2 separate regions of the Homo sapiens genome follow, and region 2 is linked to region 1. The links come from fine-mapping of genetic effects on gene expression. A gene starts in region 1. The other region holds a variant in brackets. All regions are shown on one strand. Distances are between the middles of the regions.

Evidence for each region. PIP is the estimated chance that this variant, and not a neighbour inherited with it, causes the effect.
Region 2: its variant is fine-mapped to the expression of PPP1R3B-AS1 in testis (GTEx, PIP 0.90).

Annotation. Positions count from the first base shown.
Region 1 is chr8:9,138,385-9,143,384 of GRCh38, reverse strand. It overlaps PPP1R3B-AS1 (PPP1R3B antisense RNA 1), which reads right to left and starts at 1,966. Exons shown (of 2, transcript XR_007060810.1): 1 at 1,587-1,966. It overlaps PPP1R3B (protein phosphatase 1 regulatory subunit 3B), which reads left to right. Exons shown (of 2, transcript NM_024607.4): 2 at 1,717-5,000. The coding sequence starts at 1,734. The coding sequence ends at 2,591. RefSeq lists an enhancer at 2,397-2,896.
Region 2 is chr8:9,115,348-9,120,876 of GRCh38, reverse strand. It overlaps LOC112268402 (a long non-coding RNA gene), which reads left to right. Exons shown (of 3, transcript XR_007060803.1): 3 at 4,471-5,204. Among named protein-coding and RNA genes, the nearest start is that of PPP1R3B-AS1, 23 kb to the left of the region's middle. The variant C/T (reference allele first, on the strand shown) is at 3,284.

The DNA of each region.
Region 1 (5,000 bases):
AAAAACCTACCATAAACTTAATGAAAGCAGGTTTGTGTCTATCTTCACTATTGAATCCCAGTATCTTGCTTGATGCCTGCCATATAGGAAACACCCAATCCCTATTTGTGGGATGAATCCATTTCTTTTTATCAGATTATAGCAAATATAAAGCCACAATGAGATGTCACGTCACACCCGTTAGGATGGCTATTTTCAAGAAGACCAAAGAAAATAAGTATTGGCAAAGACGTGGAGAAAAGGGAACCCTTGTCTCCTGCTGGTGGGAATGTAAATTAGTACAGCCATTATGGAAAATAGTAGGGAGGCTCCTCAAAAAACCACAACTAGAACTACTATATGACCCGGCAATCCCACTGCAGGACATATATCCAAAGGAATTGAAGTCAGTGTATCGGAGAGTTATCTGTACTCTTATGTTCATTGCAGCGTTATTCACTAAGCCAAGATACGGAATCAACCTAAGTGCCCATCATTGGATGAGTGAATAAAGAAAACATGGTATATAAACACAGTGGAATACCATTCTACCTGAAGAAAGAAGGAAATCCTGTCATTTGTGCCAACGGGGATGAACCTGGAGGATGTTAAGTGAATAAGTCAGGCACAGAGTGACAAATATAGCATGATCTCACTTATATGTGGAATCTGAAAAAGTCAAACTCATAGAAACAGAGAGTACAGGGGTGGCTACCAGAAAGTGAGGGTAGAGGGACTGGAGAGGTATCCTTTGGCCAAAGGATACAAAATTTCAGGTAGACGGGAGGAATAAATTCAAGAGATCTGATGTACAATATGGTGCCTATACTTGGTAATGATATGTTATATATTTGAAAATTGCTGAGAGTGGATTTTAAGTGTTCTCACTGCAAAAAAAGTGTGATATAATGCATGTTAAATAGCTCGATTTAGCCATTCCACAATGTATACATATATGGAAACCTGTTGTACACCATAAGAATATACAATTTTTACTTCTCAATTAATAAAGAGAGGCAGAGAGGCTCACACCTGTAATCCTAGCACCTTGGGAGGTCAAGGCAGGAGGATGGATTGAGCCAGGAGTGTGAGACCAGCCTGGGCAACATAGCGAGTCCTGTCTCTACAAAAATTTTTTAAAATTAGCCAAGCATGGTGACTTGCGCCTGTGGTCCCACTTTCTTGGGAGGCTGAGGTGGGAGGATCATTTGAGCCTGGGAGGTCGAGGCTGCAGTGAGCTGTGCTCACGCCACTGCGCTCCAGCCTGGGCACAGAGCAACACCCTATCTCTAAAAATACGTAAATAAATAGTGTCCCTCAGGACAGCTATCTGTGGAAGACACCCTTTTAGTCAAATAGATTTGGGAAATTTTAAAACAGTATATATGCCCTTTTGATTATCCTCTGTGGCACATTTGCCAACGGAAGGCCCCAAGAAATGCTGACCAAAAAACCTGTGCATTTAGTTTTAAAACTAGTGGGTTTCATACTCTTTTGTTTGTTTTAACCTTGAAGCACCCCCCACCCCCCACCGCATCTCGTCCCCCCACAACATAATCTTCTCTCAAACGCATGTTGTGCTGGACCACACCAGAGTTAATCCTGACCTGTAGCCAGGTGGGCATAGATAAAAGGAAATATTGTTTGCCAGTCCCTGCTGGAATGATGCCTTTACACATCTGTCTGATCTGATTGCTCCACTGTTTTCTTTCTTCTCTTCCCTTTCCACGGTTCTAGCCTGTTCATCTAGCCCCATGATGGCTGTGGACATCGAGTACAGATACAACTGCATGGCTCCTTCCTTGCGCCAAGAGAGGTTTGCCTTTAAGATCTCACCAAAGCCCAGCAAACCACTGAGGCCTTGTATTCAGCTGAGCAGCAAGAATGAAGCCAGTGGAATGGTGGCCCCGGCTGTCCAGGAGAAGAAGGTGAAAAAGCGGGTGTCCTTCGCAGACAACCAGGGGCTGGCCCTGACAATGGTCAAAGTGTTCTCGGAATTCGATGACCCGCTAGATATGCCATTCAACATCACCGAGCTCCTAGACAACATTGTGAGCTTGACGACAGCAGAGAGCGAGAGCTTTGTTCTGGATTTTTCCCAGCCCTCTGCAGATTACTTAGACTTTAGAAATCGACTTCAGGCCGACCACGTCTGCCTTGAGAACTGTGTGCTCAAGGACAAGGCCATTGCAGGCACTGTGAAGGTTCAGAACCTCGCATTTGAGAAGACCGTGAAAATAAGGATGACGTTCGACACCTGGAAGAGCTACACAGACTTTCCTTGTCAGTACGTGAAGGACACTTATGCCGGTTCAGACAGGGACACGTTCTCCTTCGACATCAGCTTGCCCGAGAAGATTCAGTCTTATGAAAGAATGGAGTTTGCTGTGTACTACGAGTGCAATGGACAGACGTACTGGGACAGCAACAGAGGCAAGAACTATAGGATCATCCGGGCTGAGTTAAAATCTACCCAGGGAATGACCAAGCCCCACAGTGGACCGGATTTGGGAATATCCTTTGACCAGTTCGGAAGCCCTCGGTGTTCCTATGGTCTGTTTCCAGAGTGGCCAAGTTACTTAGGATATGAAAAGCTAGGGCCCTACTACTAGTGACTGCAGGTGACAGGGCGTGGCGGAGCTGCCACAGACAAGCCTAGCTCTGCTCACTGTGCAGTGGAGATGGAAGGCCAGGGAGGAGCAACGTGGAACTTCCATGAGGCCCCGTTTGGGAAAATAAAAGGATCCTCTTCACTTCTTTCTTAAACAGCAAATCCAGCCAGGTTCAGATTACACAACCAGTGTCTCACTCAAAGGAGCAGTGGTGGCTGGCGCGCTTTCGCACTGTGGCAGCCACGAGAGTCTGTGCACGTCTGTGCTGGAAAGGGTATGGATGGGAATCAAGCCTATGCCAGTGCTGATGAAGCTGGAGGAGTCTCTCCTCTGCTCTCCACTCAGATGTGGGACATCAGTCGCCAAAAGCCACTCAGCCCCAGCCACCTCGCGTGAGACCCTCACTGTTCATTGTGTTCATCTTTGGGTGCTCTCTGCCAGCCAGGCCTTTCCTGCAAGCTGCTGTGCTTCCCCGTCCACGTGTATCTCTGCTGTGACACACTGAGCTGACGCACATTTCCAGTGCAGCTGCAGAAGAGAAATGGGATTGGCTCTTGTTTTCTGCAAGTTCATGTTTTGCATTTTATGTTCTTCCACAATTGATCTGATGTTCAGGAAAAGATAATAAAGGCAAATTAGTTAGTGGTTGAGACAGGCATTTCCTCCTCCCGCTTCTTGACCCCACAGATGTATTCCAGCAGAGAGCAACACACCAGTCATCAAAACCCACTGGCTCCTGTGCGGTGTCACAGATTGCAGGGTTCTGACAAGGCAGGACAGTCAAGAGTGGGGACACTTTCAGCTTCTACTTTTGCCTTCTAGGGGGAGCTTTCTAAGTCCCCACATTTACCCCGAGTCACCGGAAAAATCTGATTTTTCCCCCGAAAGCTCAATGACTTTAACGTGCTTGGCTGGTTTGTCTCATTCTTTATGAAAGAATTTTGGGGCCGGGCGCGGTGGCTTATGCCTGTAATCCCAGCACTTTGGGAGGCCGAGGCAGGTGGATCACGAGGTCAGGAGATCGAGACCATCCTGGCTAACACGGTGAAACCCTGTCTCTACTAAAAATACAAAAAAATTAGCCAGGCGTGGTGGCGGGCGCCTGTAGTCCCAGCTACTTGGGAGGCTGAGGCAGGAGAATGGCGGGAACCTGGGAGGCGGAGCTTACAGTGAACCGAGATCACACCACTGCATTCCCGCCTGGGCAGCAGAGCGAGACTCCGTCTCAAACAGAAAAAAAAAGAGAATTTTGAATCTCCTTTCCCAAAGAGTCATCTTTTCTGCTGTGTTTAGGACATTTGATTTGCATATCCAATATCTCCTCGAAACCTTCAGAAAATGGTTTTATCGTGACTGTGATTCACACTATCTAGAACACTTTACCAGCACCCAGGGACATGGACTTGGGTGTTCTTATTTATGGTGTGTATGTAAAGAGATAGGGGAGAAAAACCTCACCCAAGTTCTTATACGTTATTTTAAACGTTTGCCAACTCTGAAATTTCAGAGATTCATTGTTCTTAACCATATTGGACTAAAGTCTGTTGGTTAGTGCTGTTGTAAAAGAGACCTCTGGGGCCGAGTGTGGTGGCTTATGCCTGTAATCCCTGCACTTTGGGAAGCCAAGGCGGGCAGCTCACCTGAGGTCAGGCGTTCAAGACCAGCCTGGCCAACATGGTGAAACCTCGTCTGTACTAAAAATACAAAATTTAGCTGAGTGTGGTGGCAGGCGCCTGTAATCCAGCTACTCGGGAGGCTGAGGCAGGAGAATCACTTGAACCCAGGAGGTGGAGGTTGCAGTGAGCCGAGATCACGTCACTGCATTTCAGCCTGAGCGACAGAGTGAAACTGTCTCAAAAAAGAGAGACTTCCGGGACAGTCATTATCAGATAGGCCCCAAACCTGTGATTTTTCTTGGGCAAGATTGGTGTTTACTTAGGGGTGCTTTAAAAATATATTTTTACAAGTATACTTGTAGGAAGTTGGTTTTTTATTTTCTATTTTTGTTTGTTTTTGGAGTTTGGTTAAACGACTCTTTTATTTTCTGTTTTGCCTTATCTTACTAAAGTGAAGTTTTCCTAAGGCAAGCAAGAAGAGGAGTGGAAGCACAGTTGCCTGGATTTGGAGGCAGAGTTGTCAGGCTTTTCAAGCTAAGAGTCTTGTGCTTGGATTTTCCAGATTAATTTGAAAAGACCTCCCATTTGTGGCTTTGTACATAACCAACAGGCAGATACTGAGTGCCTTGGCTCCTAGAGTTTTGTGGTTGGGTTAGGTTGTTTTTGTTGTTGTTTTGTTTTGGTTTTGTTTTCATTTCTGAAGTTTAAGATGCCTTGACTTTTTAAATGCTCTTAAGGCTATTCGATGTAATTCTTACTCCTAAAACTGGCTGTTCTTAGCCTGAAATCTAAT
Region 2 (5,529 bases), 23 kb after region 1:
GGCAGAGCCCTTTGGATAGAGCCACATCTGAGGTATCTTTTCATTTCCAAGCTTTAAAAAAGCACGATGTTTCTTGATGTAGGTTCTCCATCGTCTGGCCTCTGCCTATTCCCATAGCACATCCCCTGCTGGCCACTGCCACACACTGTAGACGTCCACCAATGCCAAGTTGCTTGGTGGGCCCCACACACCCCATGCTATTTCCCACCTCCAGGCTCTGCTCATAAAATTCCTTCTGCCCTGTTGACTAGAGGAGTGCCCAGCATGGAGTAGCCACCCAGGCATGATTATGGAACTGAGCTCATGAGACTTCAGGTCCCTTCTCTTCATGTGGAGTCTCGCTGTGTCTCCCAGGCTGGAGTGCAGTGGCGTGATCTCGGCTCACTTGTCTCCCAAGTTCAAGCAATTCTCCTGCCTCAGCCTCCCGAGTAGCTGGGATTACCGGCATGTGCCACCACGCCCAGCTAACTTTTTATATTTTTTAGTAGAGATGGGGTTCACCATGTTGGTCAGGCTGGTCTCGAACTCCTGGCCTCAAATGATCTGCCCGCCTCGGCCTCCCAAACTGCTGGGATTACAGGCGTGAGCCACCACACCTGGCCTGCGCACTCTTTAAGGCTTCTCCTTGGTCCATTCCCCATAGACATGAGATCTGACCTGTCTCAGCATAGGCTAAGCCTATCCCAGAGGCATAGATGCTGATCAGAATTGTAAGCTGGAGAAGATAACACTTTCCATTAGATTAACCAACAACATGAATACAGCTTCTAGAAATATCTCAGGTAATGAATGAGACTGCCTCATCCAAATTACAAACATATCCAGGTTGTGATAATATCTGTTTCTGTTAACATAATGGTCCTTAGTTGCTATGGTAATCTTCTCCGTTGACCTGACTCTAGTGGATGAGGTTATCAGGGCCCTATCACTTCCCAGCATCAAAGCAATCTTCTAATCTGCCACACAAACTAGGGCATTTTTGAAGGTCAGAAGGATTGCTATTTATAATACACCAATGCAACAGGTATAAATAAGACAGTTCCTGGCAAATTGAGATACATGGTGACATTTCCTATCAGACTTTAAAGTATCTCACATAAATAGATCCTCAACAAGTGTTTCCTGGATGAATATATTTGTTTTTTCCTCCGTTGTAATTTAAGTTTCTTAAGAACAGAGGTGGCTGGGTGCGGTGGCTCACGCCTGTAATCCCAGCACTTTGAGAGGCCAAAGCTGGTCGATTACCTGAGGTCAGGAGATCAAGACCATCCTGGCTAACACGGTGAAACCCCGTCTCTACTAAAAATACAAAAAATTAGCTGCACGTGGTGGCGGGCGCCTGTAATCCCAGCTACTCAGGAGGCTGAGGCAGGAGAAGCGAAGCCCTTGAACCCGGGAGACAGAGGTTGCAGTGAGCTGAGATTGAGCCATTGCACTCTAGCCTGGGCAACAAGAGCGAAACTCTGTCTCAAAAAAAAAAAAAAAAAGAACAGAGGCAATGTCTAATGTTTCTTCTAGATTACTCATAATGATGGATATACCATAGCCACTCAAAAATATCTGTTAACTGTCTTATGATGAGATGTTCTTTCCAAGTGAAAATTCCCTATGGGCAACTGGAAGTACAAGAATAGAACTTTGCTGAGAAGTTAAAGCTAGAATATTTGGGTAGGTCTTTAGAGAATATAGGGTTAGCTTGGAATAGAAACCCTCCCAAGATACTATAGACACCTAAGAAAAATCAGTGAAGAGATCTGAAATATATCCATAGGAGGATGAAAGCCTCCTGTTGTTTGCTGAGCTAGAGCAAGATAGAAGTCATGAGCTTTTACTAATCATTGTATTTTATAGTGTGAAGGGGGAAGAGAACTGGAGATTTTTTTTTTAGCCAAAAAAAATAGTAATAAAATGGCTAATTTTAGGTAACATCAGCCTTTGGCAATAATACTTGAATGCAATAGAATAAAAAGACAGCTGGGTGCAGTGGCACATGCCTGTAATCCCAGCACTTTAGGAGGCCAAGGCAGGCAGATTGTTTGAGCCCAGGAGTTCGAGACCAGCCTGGTCAACATGGTGAAACTCTGTCTCCACAAAAAAATTTAAAAATTACCCGGGCATGTTGGTGCATGCCTGTGGTCCCTCCCAACTACTCGGGAGGCTGAGGTGGGACGATCGCTTGAGCCTGGGAGGTCAAGGCTGCAGTGAGCCGAGATCACATCACTGCACTCCAGCCTGGGTGACAGAGCGAGACCCTGTCTCAAAAATTTAAAAAAAAAAAAAAAAAAAAAAAAAAACAACAAAAAAGAATAAAAAGACTCTTACATAGCTGACTAGCTGACACAAGAAAGAACTGTGGAACACCAGTGACTCCTACTGCCTCATTTTACAGATGAAAGAATTAAGGCCCAGGGAATTTAATTGACATCCAGTTACCTGTTCCCCTTCTGGAAAATTCTTGCTGTGAAAATTTGACATTTGATTAGCCATTGGTGAGACTTCAGCAGTCCTGGGGAAACTTCAGTCTTCATTCCAAGGTATGGCTACAGTTTTGCCCCTTTAGATTAGAAACTAGAAACTTTTGAAGTTTTGCCAAGCTAAGGGCCTTCTTCTCCTTGTTTGGTAACTCTAACTCCCATGAGGTCTAGGTTAGCAAATGTGGATCTGTTCTCGCAAGCAGCAGGAGAAGTGGAAAGAGGGAGATGGTAAATGGAAGTCATAAGCAAAAGTGGTGCCACCTGGCCTTCCCATGTGTGAAAATCCAGCCCTCGTCATCACTGGCCCACAGTGTGTAAGATGCTGACATGTGATTTAGACACCCCCAGAACCAACTGGAGAGGTCGGTCTCACAGTAAATTGAGGCCATAAATTTATGACAAACAAGAAAGCTCCATTTTAAGTCCTGTTATAGTTTCAGCAGTGGCCAGAAATGTCACTTTTGCAAGGTCACTTTATTTTTGCAAGGCTCTCCTGGTATTTCAAGAATTCTCATTGTCACAAAATTATGGGAAGTAACACCTTGGACATTTGCACTTGGACCACTGCAAGGTTAAATTCACTCCCCAAAGTTATGCAGTGAGCCCAAAGGAAGGCATATTTTATGCCCATAACCTCATTCTAAAGCCATTTCTGAGAAGATCAGGAAGGTGAATTCTTCCATTGGCTGTGTCCCAAGCTGTCATTCTCAAAAAGACTGCCGTAGCACACTGAGTCGGCCCCATGCCTCTTCCTGCATTACTTCTTTTTTTTCCCAAGCAGGATGATTTTTCCAGCACAATTATTTAAA[C/T]AAAAATAATACAGGCTGGGTGCAGTGGCTCACGCCTGTAATCCCAGCACTTTGGGAGGCCAAGGTGGGTGGATCATGAGGTCAGGAGTACGAGACCAGCCTGGCCAAGATGATGAAACCCTGTCTTTACTAAAAATACAAAAATTAGCCAGTTGTGGTAGCGGGCGCCTGTAATCCTAGCTACTTGGGAGGCTGAGGCAGGAGAATCGCTCAAACCCAGGAGGCAGAGGTTGCAGTGAGGCGAGATCGCACCACTGCACTCTAGCCTGGGTGACACAGCGAGACTCCATCTCAATAATAATAATAATAAGACTAGATGGAGATGAGGGAGGGGAGATGTGAACCCTTAGAGATTCCAGAAACTGACAAGTTTCTTGTGCCAAGAAGGCACTAGCAAGAGCCTTAGTTTAATTTACTTAATGAAAACTTATGGATTGATGAATTCTTGGGAGAAGAGGCCCTGTGTCCAATCTACCGTGCTGTTAATATAGGGCTAGGCGTGGTACTGAAGTGGCATCATGGAAACTGAGTTCCGCAAGGAAGTCATAAATGGAAACAACCTTTTCTGCCCACCTTGGACAGATTAGGCAGGGAGACAATTTTGGTAGGTGGGAAACATAAGCTGCCCAACTCCAGAGCACAGCCTCCCAAGATGGATGACTATCATACCCTTGAGTTTTCTCCCTTTGTAGGAATTAGTGCCTTATGATTGAAAAAAAAAAAAAAAGTGACCAGGCCAGGATCAAGGCACTCCTAAGGAATGGCGGGCCAGCAGCACGGACTAAAACTTGATAGATCTGGGGGAAGCGGGGTTAGACAGAGTCAGAGATCTCGAGAACACCACATTAAGAACCAGAGATCCTGGCTTTATTATATGAATTTCATTACTGGAAAATATCTGGGAATTAAAGATATCAGTGATACCATGGATACTCTAAGATTCATGGTCCATAAGCAAAATTTTGCTGAGAGATTTATTTCTGGTTCCTGGCCACCAGAAACCAACCATAGAATTAGGCTAAGTAATTTCAGGAAGAGATCTCAGTTCACTCTGACTTACTGAGGAGCAAGTAGAGGTAAAGACAGGAACAGTGAATTGCCCAAGATCACACAGGGGTTAACAACAACAGGGACCCACAGTCCAATCTCATGACTCTCAGACAAAAGCGTATCTTCCACATCCACAGGACTCCCTCCCTCTGGAGCCCCCTGGACTGCAGGCGTCTCTTGGATGCGGATGTTCCCTCTACACAAGGTGATCAGAAGGGTAAATATTCAGGGTGTGTATTTACATGACCATGAACCATGCTACTTTTTGTCTGTGAGGAAGGATGGATAAAACCTGTATCTACCACATTCTGATAAGAAAAGGGGCCTTCAAGTCAGGCAGATCTAGATTTTAGTCTTGCTTCCAAACACACTCAGCTGTGTGACAGAGAGACAACTTACTTGATCCCTTTAGGTTTCAACTCACTGATTTGCAAAATGAGAACAATACTTGCCCCTAATGTAAAGGTTTGGGGGAAGGCCAAATGAGATAATGTTTATGGAACATTTAGCACAGGGCCTTGCAAAGAATACATAAGCAATTATTATTACAGTTGACCCTTGAATAATGTGAAAGTTACGGAGGCTGACCCCCGCCATGCAGTCAAAAATCTGCATATAACTTTTGACTTCTCAAAAACTTAACTACTAATAGTTGACTTTTGACTGGAAACCTTGCCAATACTATAAACAGTCAATTAGCATATATTTTGCATATGTATTATATTCTATATTCTTATAATAAAGTAAGCTAAAGAAAATGTTATTAAGAAAATCATAAGGAGAAGAAAATACATTTACAGCACTGTACTGTATGTATTGATACCGTAAGTTTCCATTGCCTGTTCACAAGATGAATAATCTGTCTGAAATGGTGGCAACCACAGCTGCAGAGCTCAATCTATGGTACAGATCAAGCAAGTCAACTTTTTCTTGTAATGTCATGACTTTTCTCTGTTTCTTGGGAGCAATTTCAGTGTCACTAGGGGCACTCTATATGGATCTCATGATATTATTCAAGGTTTATGGTATTACACTAAAAAGAATGAAAAAGTTTGAAACATTGCAAGCATTACCAAAATGTGACACAGAGACACAAAGTGAGCACATGCATTTGGAGAAATGGTGATGATAGTCTTGTTTGATGCAGGGTTGCCACAAACTTTCATTTTGTAAAAAATTCAGTATCCGCAAAGCAC